Linked DNA regions of Homo sapiens. The protein of the gene in region 2 interacts with the protein of the main gene of each other region in a pairwise test. Each region holds a gene or a part of one and is shown on either strand. Other genes may lie near its edges.

Evidence for each region. The genes of interacting proteins can lie anywhere in the genome.
Region 1: the proteins of SPRED1 (region 2) and SSX2 interact in binary tests that used the Homo sapiens proteins (3 or more experiments, as listed by UniProt).
Region 3: the proteins of SPRED1 (region 2) and WWOX interact in binary tests that used the Homo sapiens proteins (3 or more experiments, as listed by UniProt).
Region 4: the proteins of SPRED1 (region 2) and CEP43 interact in binary tests that used the Homo sapiens proteins (3 or more experiments, as listed by UniProt).

Annotation. Positions count from the first base shown.
Region 1 is NC_000023.11:52,700,679-52,704,178, forward strand, and holds part of SSX2 (protein SSX2), read right to left. Parts: intron 1,953-3,500; coding exon 1,903-1,952; intron 1-1,902.
Region 2 is NC_000015.10:38,255,836-38,259,335, reverse strand, and holds part of SPRED1 (sprouty-related, EVH1 domain-containing protein 1), read right to left. Parts: intron 1-3,500. UniProt on the Homo sapiens protein: Tyrosine kinase substrate that inhibits growth-factor-mediated activation of MAP kinase. Negatively regulates hematopoiesis of bone marrow.
Region 3 is NC_000016.10:78,109,654-78,113,153, reverse strand, and holds part of WWOX (WW domain-containing oxidoreductase), read right to left. Parts: intron 3,377-3,500; coding exon 3,319-3,376; intron 1-3,318. UniProt on the Homo sapiens protein: Putative oxidoreductase. Acts as a tumor suppressor and plays a role in apoptosis. Required for normal bone development. May function synergistically with p53/TP53 to control genotoxic stress-induced cell death.
Region 4 is NC_000006.12:167,019,897-167,023,396, forward strand, and holds part of CEP43 (centrosomal protein 43), read left to right. Parts: intron 1-2,512; coding exon 2,513-2,739; intron 2,740-3,500. UniProt on the Homo sapiens protein: Required for anchoring microtubules to the centrosomes. Required for ciliation.

The sequences.
Region 1 (3,500 bases), on a different chromosome or scaffold from region 2:
CTCAACAACACTGGGAGAGTTACACAGGCCTAAATTAGGAGAAACCTGGGAGGGGAGGTTAGAAGGGAAAGGAATGGCCTAAGTGAATATGGTTTCCAGGGATAGAATGCTTATCTTCCCACTCTTTTAGGACTGACATTCTTGCAAACAGCAAAAATCTCCATGTAATTGAGAGTGTGATATACAGATGATTTGGAGAAGAGTAGCATTCTAAGAATTCACAAGGTCTACAAAGGGAAGAGGTTCTGTAAAATACAAGGGATCCCATATAAGCTTCTAGACAGCTGCTGGGAGAGTAAATGTAAAAACATAGGGAGGCGACAAAACACTGCTGGGAAAGATGGTGTGGGGAGATGAATACAGGGAAGGGAGAGGGAAAGAAATGGTTTGCCGAAATTAATCTAGGCAGCAAACAAAGCAGTACCAGATATGACATACTACCCTACTGGGGCACCGACATTCAATGTGGAATTCAGTGAGGTGGTACCCATACCAATTCTGGTTGCATTGGGATGTGTCACTGACCAACAATCTTAAGCTACTTTTTTTTTTCTTTCTTTCTTTCTTTTTTTTTTTTTTTTTTTTTTTTTTTGAGACGGAGTCTCACTGTGTCGCCAGACTGGGGTGCCGTGGCATGATATCGGCTCAAGGCAACATCCGACTCCCGCGTTTAAGCGATTCTCCTTCCTTAGCCTCCAGAGTATCTGGGACTACAGGCAGGCACTACCACGCCCCGCTAAGTTTTGTATTTTTAGTAGAGACACGGTTTCACCATGTTGGGCAGGATGGTCTCGATCTCTTGACCTCGTGATCTGCCCGCCTCAGCCTCCCAAAGTGCTGGGATTACAGTCGTGAGCCACCGCGCCCGGCTCTTAAGCTACTTTTCATTCAGCTTCCTCCCTTATGAAATAGTGAACCATACATGTCAAATAGCCTACAGTAAAGTCCTCTCTGAGCTTGTAAACACTGTTTAAATGTCGTAATAATAACAATTAATACCTTTCACAATCCTTCTTTGAATTCAGTCTCCACACTGGCAACCCAACTCCCAGATCCCTTTACCCTCCAAACCAGAGTTGAATCTGCACTTGTGGGATCACTCATTCAGGGGCCTCCGAGGGATCCCCTGGGCTGGGACTGGGCCTTCCCAGATGCCCCAGGTGCAGACAAGGCACTCAAGGAGCTCACAGTAGGGAGGGGCCAACAATCAAAGTGATTCCTAAGCCATGCAAGTGGCCCCAGCAACACAGCAGAGACCAGATGGTCCTTCCTGTTGAGAGAGTGGGTGTCTCATTGGAAGCACCAGCAGGCCCTATGGGGTGAAGCCCTAGTGAGCAACATCTGAACTTCATAGACAAATGCAAATGTGAATGAGCTTTAAATGGCTTGGAGCTCTGGATTAGACTACCACTGCCACTGCGCCCCAGGAAAATTCTTTAACATCTCTGTACCACGATAGCCTCATTTTATTATTATGTTGCTGATAACTATGATCTAAAACATGAACTATAATTCTTTACTTCCATTTCATGGACCAGGAATCTGGAGCTCAGAGAACTTAGAAGATTTGTGTCAAGTCACATGGCTTTCATATGGATGAAAACTGAAGTGTGTGACTCATTATTATTTGGAGATAATAGAAACAATGTCTTCTTAAGGATTAAATAAATTAATCCATGTGAACTGCTTGAAATAGTATCTGGCATCACTATGAAAACAAAAGAAGTATTAACAATCGCAACTGTTGGTACTATCAAGCCGTCGGTGCGACATCAGGTGTTGTGATAGACATGGGGAGAAGAAGGCAGTGAGGGCATTTTTGATATTCTCCCACTCTTACCAGTGTTCGCATCCGTGGAGGGACAAAGGTTCTCTGGTCCTTTAGATCTGAGAGACACTCACCTTCGGGGAGATTCCCTGGAGCCTGCCGAAAGTCATCTGAGGACGTTCAACTGAAAGAGAATACATCAGAATTTTTCTTTGTTGGTAAAGGTTTCCAAACTCTAGAGAGACTTCTGTCGCATCAGGGTATTCTGCAGCAGAGGGTTATGAGTCCACTCATTGTTGAGGAGTTATTTCAGATTTGCTTCTGAATTATGTTTAGTCATGGTTGGTGCATTTATCTGTGGCATCAATTCAGAATTTTCCATCTCATGGTTTATCACATGGGGACTACACCCCATCACAGTCTCATCTTATTCCATTACATATCTTTTACTTTTTCCCAAATAATTAAATTGATTGGTTAGGAATCTGAACTGTATCCACTCAAGATGTGCAACAACTGAAAATCATTGTACACTTCAAATGGGTGAATCTTATGGTATGTGAATTAAGCTGTTAAATGTGTGATGAACCATGGATGATTTGGTCCAGTGGCTCTGAAATATTTTCAGTATAAAGACACTCCTTTACTGTCAAAACTTGGCAGATACTCAAGCACTGGCTTTTCAGGTCTCTTATAGTGATTGCGGGAGATTGTAGAATCTGGCCTGTTTAGTTGGCGAGTAATAGGTCTATTGGAGACGGTTTGGACATTCTGACCTTGTCTTATAATTATGTTGTCAGAGTAGAAGAGCAAGTAAATACATATGTCCCCTTTATATTCCTGAAATGTACAAAGCTCTCTACCCAAGAACCTATCTTTTTTTCACCCTATGTTATCTCTGCTCTCTGACAAGTGGGAAAGCTCTCTGTGTGTTGGATAAGGGATCACTCCTTCAAACTCTCTTCCAAGCTCATTACGGAGAATCAGGGTTCTTTGGGAATGAGAAGACTATTTGGTTTTGATAAACCAATACAGAGAAACAGCGATCTTTATTACATAATGTGTTCATCACCCTCACTCCTAAGATACCTATCCAATACCTACATGCTGTTAATGAAACAAACTCTGGAAGTTTTTGGCGGATCTACAGTTTTAACACTTTCTTTCTTTCTTTCTTTTTTTTTTTTCACTTGTAGCATTTTTTTAGCAGTCCTTTGATTCATTAACGGTGCTTAGGAAGAACAACATGTCGTTTAAAAAAGAAATATTTCAAACACACAGAAAAGTATGGGGAATAATATTGAGTCCAGTCGGATCTCAACATTACCCCACAGCTATGTTAGGTCTGATTTATTTATTCAGAATATTAGAAAAACTGCAAATAGGCCGGGCGTGGTAGCTCACAGTTGTAATCCCAGCACTTTGGAAGGCTGAGGCGGGTGGATCACCTGAGGTCAGGAAGTTTGAGACCAGCCTGGCCAACATGGTGAAACCCCGTCTCTACCATAAATTAAAAAATGAGCTGGGTGTGGGGGCACGTGCCTGTAACCCCAGCTACTCGGGAGGCTGAGGCAGGAGAATCACTTGAACCCAGGAGGTGAAAGTTGGAGTGAGCTGAGATTGCCTTATTGCACTCTACCCTGGCCGAGAAGAGTGAAACTCCATCTCAAAAACAAAAACAAACAAAACACACTATCAACAAGTCACAGCTGAAGCTGTCTGTGCCGCACTC
Region 2 (3,500 bases):
GCAGTGAGCTATGATCATACCACTGTACTGCCCTCCAGCCTGGACAACACTGCAAGACCCTGCCTCTTTAAAATAAATAAATACATAAAAAACAAAATTGAGTAGTACAAAATTTTGTGTCATCAAAGATACATGGCTATTAAGCCCAAAGTAAGTCTTAAAAGACTATTAATATACCAATTGTTTCCAAATTTTGTATCTTAATTGTTCAAAATGCATGCTTTTACCTAATCTTCCTACCACTTCTACTCTTAAGTCTTTTGTTTAAGTATGTCAAAAATAACAATATAATAAAATTAACAAAGTCTAAATCATACACCATCAACAAAGGAAGGGCACATATGATGCTTAGTCCAAATTCTTTAATTTATAAATCAGCAAACTGAGGCCTACAGAGCCCAGGATTAGAGAATAAATTAAAAATAGCTACAAAAGAAATCCATCTCCCAATTTCAAGTCCAGTGTTCTTTAGACTATACCATACTGCACAGAAGATGGTAAGAGTTAAATAAATGATGTACAAATGGCTTTTACATGAGCACTTAAATTCTATTTATAATATAGCATTTAAAAACATTCTAGTTACCGCAAAACAACCTAATAAGTTTTTAAATCAATTTTATTTTACCATAAAGCATTTAAAAAATAAGACTTCATTTTCTACCTTCAAAATTGGCAAAGAAAAATTCAGACAACTGTACAGACATTTCAAAGTTTAAGCACTCTCATATACTAAATACTTCTTTTCTAGAGGGCAATTTAACAGAAAGAATAAAATTAAATATTTTCCTCTCTTTTAACTCCATTCTTAGACTATCTCAAGGGAAAAGTAAGAGATCTGGATGGAGACAGAACTCAGGATGGTATGCAACATTGTTTAAAAATAACTAAAATATCCAACAATAGGAGACTGATTACAACTAATGTATATCATACACTGAACATAATGTAGCCACTAAAAATTATATTCTAGAATATTTAACGACTTAAGAAAATATTCACATTAAGCTACAATTGTACCCACTGTGCAATTCCATTCCACTGAGAAGAAACACATGTATATATATAAACTACATAATGCTTTCATAAAGCATTTATAACAGTGCTTGGCATACAGTAAAAATCTAATAAATGAATATGTTTCATCACCAACATCATAAGAAAGGTTTCCATGTAGACCAAAATTTTAGCAGCTGTTATTTAATGGCAGAATTGCAAATAAATTATTACTCACTTTAGAGATCATTTTGTACATTATCTGAAATAAACTACTACTCTTACATGGGGTGAAGCATTTTTTAAATTGGCATTTTTAATGTCGTTCCTGTTCCTACTGAAAGATGGAGAAGAAAAGCAGGCTTGTCTTTACCAATCATTTCCCCAAACTGGGTAAGACTAGTCAAGTTCAAGTTATACAACACCAGAGAAAAGGCTAAATTGTTACACTTTCCCCTTAGGCAGTTCTCAGTCACCAACAGCTGCAGTATAAAATCACGGAATCTGCTGCTGTTTACCCTTTCCTGATCAATTTCACTTCTTTATCCCTAGTCAGTTCCTCACCCTTGGCACTAATGTGGAACCATGGGGGAAAGGGAGAGCAATTTAAAGACTTAAAACTGATAAACAGCTGGAGATACATATTCCTAAATTTTGAGCTTCCTATGCCAAAAAAGACAGACACACAAATGTCTACCTTCTTGTGGATATAACACGGGTCTTCAGATACACCACATAACTCAGAGGCCAAGCACATCCAAACATCCCAACAGCACTTTAGGACAGTTTTTAAGCCTGATCTAAGTTATTTCTCAAACTTGCAGAAACAAAACATGTCAAAAATGAGGCCAATTTTTGTCTTTTCTTAAAAAAAAAGGTAAGCCTTCTTAAACGGGTAATAATTTACTTTTCCCATACTCTTTTTCGGCCTTTTTTTCTAATACAGCTAATGATCTCAAATGCATAAATTCAGAGAAAACAAAAAAATGAGGTAATGAGGCTCCATTAATTCAACCACATTTGTAGAGCATTTGCCATCAAGCACTGTGCTAGGCATACAAACAAAAGTAGGGAATTACAGAATAGCGGTCATAGAAATAAGTAAATAATCACAATATTATATGATTTTAAAACTAATATACATATGTACGAAGTACAGAGGCAACATAGAGGGACAGAGTGTTGAAAGAGGGGAAGAGAGAAGGTCTTTTGGGGAAAAATGACAAATTTACAAAAGTTTGTAAGGAGAGGAATTCTAGGTATGGTATCATAATGTGTTTAAAATATATAATTCAGGATCATAAAGTTTTAAGTGAGAAAGCAGAGGGAAATTAAGTTGAAGCAAGTATGCAGTCATTTAGCTGATTTTTACACAGGCCAACTGAATAATAAGCAAATTTTTATATTATGTATACACCACATCTATATAAACAAACATTAGATGGCTTAATATTACACAGCTTTCCAGTGCTTCCATTTATTTCTAGAATGTTTTCCAATTTTATATATATATATATGTGTGTGTGTGTACATACATATACATACGTAAAATGTATGGGGTGAACATATGTTTATTTACACTTATCAAAAATAACTCACCACTGGGTATATTTTTTATGAGGCACTAAATGATATAACCATAAAAATTTGCTTTCTATTTACGGAAAAACAGTTCAAACTCAGATTACAACATAGTACGTTTATCATACATGGTCTAATTCTAGTTAACCTAATTCCAAAATCTAATATAATCCCAACTTGCTATTAGAAAGCCTAATACTGACACAGGAAGTGTTTCTGGCTAACGTGAACCTAATAAGCCAAATGCTTATTATTTCAGCTACTTCACTTCTCCAAATGTTTTGGCCAAATTGACAAAAGGACATGCAGTGCTATATACACTCAATACCAAAGGACAAAGACTCTTAAGTATTATATAATATGCCTTTAAATGTTTAAAACTCTATTTAGAAGGCTAATTCAATAATGTAAAATATGGTACAGTTATATCTATCGGAAACATTTGACTGGAGTATTAAACAGTCTCTGTGCAAATTACCTACAAAACAAACATGTATGTGGCTATTTCCTCTACTATTTATAACACAAATTCTTTTGCTCTAGAGTATGTTTACTATTTTTGAAAAGTAAGATTTTTAAACATAAATGTGAAACAATCTAAGAAATGCTTTATTCTAATTTATTTCTTCCTTACTTGGTTTGGCATTAAAGCAAAGCCCTACACATAACAGATCCCCCACTAATTCTTGATTAAATATATTCTCACAGTCAGCCTAGGAGTTATCCATTTCTCTACATAAAACTTTAATTTCAAATAATAAGCATGTACTCGAGGATTTCAGAATGAGGCCCTACTGGATTTTACCACAATGGCTATCTAGAAAGGGTTAATGGTTTCCCAGGAAACTGGTGATTTTCACTTTTCTTGAAGGTTGAAATCAGGTGAAAAAGAAACTAAAGAATGTTAAAAATAGTCCCTACTG
Region 3 (3,500 bases), on a different chromosome or scaffold from region 2:
ATGCTGCTGGTCCAGGAACCATGCCTGAGAACTGCTGCTCTTGGTTGATTAATACCCATTTCAGGGAGTAACTTTCCAAGCGTGAATGCAAAGGCAAAGACTGCACAGGAGAAAATTGATTTGACTACATAAAAAATTTAAGAAATTCAGTCAGGTGTGGTCGCTCATGCCTGTAATATGAATGCTTTGGGAAGTCAAGGCAGGAGGATCGCTGAAGGCCAGAAGTTCAAGACCAGCCTGGGCAACATACTGAGCCTCAGTCTCTACAAAAAAAAAGTCTTTAAAAATTAGCTGGGCATGGCAGCATGAGCCTGTAGTCCCAGCTCCTCAGAAGGCTGAGGCAGGAGGATCACTTGAGTCCAGGAGGTTGAGGCTGCAGCGAGCTGTGACTGTGTCACTGCACCTCAGCCCTGGATAAGAAGAGCAAGACCCAGTATAAAAAAAAAAAAAGAAAGAAAACTTGGAAAAAAAAAAAAAACATTTTCAACATTTTCAACATACAACCAATGCGTTGATACCCTTAATTAGTTGAGGAAAAAAAACTTTCACAAGTTAGGCAAAAAGCCTTTTAACAAATAATAGGCACTCCCACCTATCCAACTGCTAGACAGCCCCGTCTTCCTGGGGCTGCCTATGGTGGCCTGGGAGACTTCTCTCAAGCAAGCTTTGGCCTATTTGCTCTCAATATCAGTTTTGCACCAAAAGTTCACCAGGTTTGCTCAAAAAACACACATGTCATTTGAACTTGTTACTGTAACTACATTACCAGCAAGCTACTATTACACAAACTGATAACATGGGAGGTGAAAAATAGTGTCAGTGGTATCTATGAAAATGTGGTCGAATGCTTTGGAGAGCCTCAAAGACAAGCAGCTAAAAAAAAAGTTTTGGTTCAATCAACTACAGTGAAAATGCTAGAAAAATACCATAAAACTCCCAAATGATGTAGCAATCAGATTCTTTGAAAATACTGTGTTTGCTCAACCTTAAAGTTGTAGGGTCCAGCCCTACTGGGCTTAGCGGGTGTTCTCCCCGTGTGCAGAGACGAGGGATTGTAATAAATAAAGACACAAGACAAAGAGATAAGGAGAAAACAGCTGGGCCCAGGGTGGGGGCCACTACCACCAAGATGTGGAGACCGGTAGTGGCCCCGAACGGCTGGGCACGCTGATATTTATCGCATACAAGACAAGGGGGCAGGGTAAGGAGGGTGAATCTTCTAAGTGATTGACAAGGTGAAGCAAGTCACGTGATTACAGGATAGAGGGCCCTTCCCTTTTAGGTAGCCGAAGCAGAGAGAGAAGGCAGCATACGTCAGCATTTTCTTTTCTGCCCTTAAAAGAAAGATCAAAGACTTTAAAACTTTCACCATTTCTTCTACCACTATCTACTACGTACTTCAAAGAGGAACCAGGAGTACGGGAGGAGCATGAAAGCGGACAACGTACGTGACCATTGAAACACAGCACCACAGGGAGGGGTTTAGGCCTCCGGATGACTGTGGGCAGGCCTGGATAATACCCAGCCTTCCACAAGAAGCTGGTGGAGCAGAGTGTTCCCTGACTCCTCCAAGGAAAGGAGACTCCCTTTCGCGGTCTGCTAAGTAACGGGTGTCTTCCCAGACACTGGCGTTACCGCTTGACCAAGGAGCCCTCAAGCAGCCCTTATGCGGGTGTGACAGAAGGCTCACCTCTTGCCTTCTAGGTCACTTCTCACAATGTCCCTTTAGCACCTGAGCCTATACATGCCAGTTATTCCTAGGTTATGTTAGTAATGCCACAAAGAGTAATATTAAAAGCTAATGATTAATAGTGTTTATAGTAATGATTGATAATTGTCCATGATCATCTCCATATCTAACCTGTATTATGACTATTCTTATTCTAACTACTTTCTTTATTATACTGAAACAGTTTGTGCCTTCAGTCTCTTGCCTCGGCACCTAGGTACTCTTTCGCCCACATAAAATGAAAGTAGAAATTGTAGATGTTATGTTACAGGCATGCTTAGGGGAAGGAAGACCACACTGGATCCATGCAAGTGGACTCACACTCAGAGGAGGGCTGGCCCGACCCCTAAATGTTGGTGTACTTGAATCAAATACTGAAACGTTTATGTTACATTCATAACTTTAAAAAAAAAAAAAATTCCTGCTCAAATCAACTTCTATTAACCAACCAATCCTAATCCTGTCAAAGACTATTCAAGCTTCTAATTTAAATGTTGACAGTTGTGAAACATTAATTCTCCTCTTAACTACGGTGGTCAAGAGTACAGTCCCTGGAGCAGGTGCTGGGCTCAAAGCCTGGCTGTGCTACTTCTTTGCTGTGGGATCCTTAACAAGTCACTTACCCCCTCAAGTCTGTGTCACTGGCAGTAAGCTAGGGATAATAACAATACTACCTCTCAGGGCACTGTGGGGATCCAATGACCTAATGCTACAGATACAAGATGATTAGAATCAGGCCTGGCTCATGCTATATGTTGGACAGGTGGTTACTATTGCTGCGTGATACCGGAATTTATCCTAAAGACAGAATCAGAGAGGTGAAAAAGTCTTACAGATAAGGATGCTCAATACATTATTTATAATTATAGGTTCTCTATAACAGGAATTTAGCATTAATGTCCAATAGGCAATTTGATAAATTATAGTATATCTGTACAAAATAATAACTCTAGAGCTGCTAAATAGCATCTTTTTGAAAAATAGATATGGATACAAGAAAATGCTCATAATATATTACATGGAAAAAGCAGGTTACTAAACAGTCCACACAGTGCATTCCCTCTTTTTTTTTTTTTTTTTTTTTTGAGAAGGAGTCTCATTCTGTCACCCAGGCTGGAGTGCAGTGGCGCGATCTCAGCTCACTGCAACTTCCGCCTCCTGGGTTCAAGTGATTCTCCCGCCTTACCCTCCCGAGTAGCAGGGACCACAGGCACGTGCCACCACACCCAGCTCATTTTTATATTTTTAGTAGAGACGGAGTTTCACCATGTTGGCCAGAATGGTCTCGATCTCTTGACCTCAGGATCCACCCACTTCGACCTCCCAAAGTGCTGGGATTACAGGCATGAGCCACCATGCCTGGCCTCCCTACTTTTTTTTTTTAAGGATGCGTGTGCGGGGAAAATAGAAGAATAAATCTAGCGATGTTAAAAGTTCCAGCGATGTTAAAAGTAGTCACTTCTGCTAAGATTACAGATACACACTGTTATACTTTGTATTTTTCTACAGTTACTATGTATTACTTTTATAATTAAAAATTCCTATTAAAAAGCAAAACAGCTGAGAGTGGTTTCTTTGCAGACACTTACTCAACAAAAAACACTTGTCCGTTCTCATCAGTTTCTTGTTCCCATCCGTATGGCAAATCTGAAACACAAGAAAGACAGGTCTACAGGTGCCAGGGAGAAGTAAAGACCATCCCTGGGTCAGGAAGGGAAGGAGCCCTCCCAGCCCCGCCCCCAAGCCTGTCCCTCCCACCCAGCAGTTGTCA
Region 4 (3,500 bases), on a different chromosome or scaffold from region 2:
TACATTTTTCAGTTTCTGTCATGCCAGTTATTCTTTGGCACTTTCTCATGAGTGTTTAGAAGGAGAGAATCTGTCGTGGCCACAGGCTGTGTCATTGTACATATGTTTAAATATCACATCAGGGTATTTATTTCCAAATGCATATTCTTTTAAAAAGACATAAATCCATTATTAAAACAGTGTAAAAATCAGAAATTACAACTGCTGTGAATTACATAATATTTTTCTATATTTGATAATACCAGGAAAATGTCAAGAAAGTTGTTAGGAAATTTTTGAAAGTTTCCATCCCTTTGAAAATATGTTGTCTAAAATTATAACTTGCTATTTATTTTTTCAGACATCTCTTTATAATCATTAATTTATATTAATAACATGGAATGTGTAGCTCTCTAGAAGGCAATAAAATTTGCACAGCATATATCTTGCCTACTGTCAACTAGTCAAGACCTCTACCTGGTGTAAAGATGTAAACGTATATCATAAGACATGCATAATGCATTCTGTCTGTACCCATATGAAAAGTGAAACCATCCTTCAGGAGCGTCTTGTTCGGTAATGTCTAACCCAGACTTTGGTCACCATGCTTCAGTAGTTACTACTCTTTAATTCTTTCTCAGCCATCCATCCCTTCCTAGATATAATTTGATCTGAAAAATATGAATCTAGTTCAATTCTTGAGGAAACTCATGCCTAGGAAATTAATTTACTTAAGATTACACGGGCCATGTATGGTGGCTCACGGCTCACGCCTGTAATCCCAGCACTTTGGGAGGCCGAGGCGGGTGGATCACTTGAGGTCAGAAGTTCGAGACCAGCGTGGCCAACATGTTGAAACCCTGTTTCTACTAAAAATACAAAAATTAGCCAAGCGTGGTGGCACGCGCCTGAAATCCCAGCTACTCAGGAGGCTGAGGCAGGAGAATCGCTTGAATCTGGGAGGCGGAGGTTGCAGTTAGCCCAGATTGCCCCACTGCACTCCAGCCTGAGTGACAGAGCGAGACTCTGTCTCAAAAAAAAAAAAAAAAAAAAAAAAGATTATACGACTGGGTGTAGTTTGTGCTTGTAATCCCATAAACCCAGCTACTTGGGAGACTGAGGCAAGGAGGACTGCTTGAGCCCAGGAGTTTTAAGACCAGCCTGGATGACATAGTGAGAGCCTGTTTCTTAAAAAAGAAAAAAAAAAAAAAGAAAAAAAAATGGAGTTAATAATTTTGGACTACATTCCAGATTCCTTGTTTCAGTTGAGTGCTTTTTCTATTATTCCACGGGTATTTTACACAATACTGCTCTCTTTAGTATGCAAGGCTGAATTTTGGGAAATTGCCATTTTTAACCCATAAAGCCCACAAATTCATTATAATTTAGCTTAATAGCATAAATATTGAGTTAACCTCTGGAAGCAGGCTTTGACTTTGATATTGACCTGACCACTTAACTCTCTGGAGACTTTGACAAGTGACATCAATGTCTGTCTCTGTGTTTCCTGATTTATATCCACAGATAGAAAGCCATCTCCAGATCCTAGGGCCATTTTCAAGATTCAGTGAGATAAGGTGAAGCATTTGAATGTTCTCCATAAATGTCAGCTGCTTTTATTATTACTAGCATTATTTTTTGTTTTCATTATTATTATTAACATAGACCCGTCTAAGGGCAGAAAGAAATCTGACCAAGAATGGAGTGAAAGTCGGCTGTGAAGGTTAGGACTCCCTGAAAACAAAAAAGAAAAGTGGTAACATCACTCTGTATCCAAGGGCATGGATAAGGATGATTCAGAATTTTTTTATAACATTGATGTTAATATACATAGAGAAATACACACACACACACACGTATATATGTCCATGGACATCAAAATGAGGTATAGGTTAGGAAGTTACCCTGGAAGTTAGAATTGAGATAATTACTTTGATTAGCAAAGGTTTATGTTAGAAATATGAGTGGTTGAAGGCAGCGCCTTTCACCTTGATGCCTGTTGTGTTTAGCACTGGATAGAAAATTGCTATTTTTACTGATGACTACTTTAATGCTTGGTTCATTCATATGAAATAATCTTTCTTTTCTCCTTTAATAATAATGATCTCTCCTGATTTCAAGTTGAAAATGTATTAATTTAAGATAACTTATGAAGCAATGACATATGGAAGAGGAGATGGGAAATTGTTTCTCAATGGGAAAGTGTTTATAAATGGGATAGGTATACTAAAGGTATTTCCATTTAGGGAAAGAGGAAAGGAATGGTATTAATATATTTCTCTAATATTTTTCCCCCTTTGAAAGTTTGCCATGTTAGGAATCCTGGGGATGGAGTGATGAATTGTGGCATTGCTCTGCAGTTCACGCTGCTGAGAGCTGCCCCAACACACACACACACACACACACACACACACACACACAAAGGTTGCACACACACAGGTTTGATTATGCTCATGAGACTTCTTTTATTATTGAAAATATCTTAAAGTTTTATCTCACCAAGGAGGCCTTTTCTCTTTCCCTCTCTTTCTAGAAGGCCAATGATGAGGCCAATCAGAGTGATACAAGTGTCTCCTTGTCAGAACCCAAGAGCAAAAGCAGCCTTCACTTACTGTCCCATGAAACAAAAATTGGATCTTTTCTAAGCAACAGAACTTTAGATGGCAAAGACAAAGCTGGCCTTTGTCCAGATGAAGATGATATGGAAGGAGATTCTTTCTTTGATGATCCCATTCCTAAGCCAGAGAAAACTTACGGTTTGTGAGTAAATGGTTTTTGAGCTATGAGACTAGGGGTTTAAAAATAAGATAAATGTTTTCATTTTATAGTTAAAAAATAATGAACTATGGAAGGTTTATAATTATTGGATCCATAAATCTGACTATGCGTTGTTAATGCCTTTCATGTTGTAAAACAATCCCAGATTTTAGAAAAACCTAGACATGATTTATTCCAACAAGTAAGTGTAGATTGAGTGTCAGCCACTTGCCAGGGCTGTTCCAGGGTGGGGTGCAGCAATGATAGAAGAGGGAAGACTCCTGCCCTCAGGAAGCTCATGCTCTGGTGACAGAGTCAGGCAATGAGGGTTATGCTGCAGTGTGTGGGGTGATGAGAGCAGAGCAGTGATGGGAGCCCGAGTGTGTGGTCAGGGCAGGTGCATGTCAGCTGTCCAAATTGGAGGGGGCCTCACTTGGAGGTGCCCAGTGAGCAAAGAGCTAGAGGAGGTAAGGGAGTTGCCGTGGGTTGATGGAGCTTTGGGGAGAGGAAACAGACAGCAGGGAGGCGAGTTGGGGGTAGCAGAGAGAGCAAGATGGGGATCGGATGAGGTGGACTCAGAGATGAGGAGCTGGACGGCTTTTCTTTGAGACTGGAAGCCCTGAGGATCTTGATCTGGCGTACATTACAGAAGGATCCTGAGGTTGCTGGGGAAGGTTGGTCTTAGAGTTTCCAGTTAGGAGGCCGTTAATGATGGAAAAGGATTTGCCAGTAAGTGCTAGAGAAAAGTAATATACAGAGTGGCA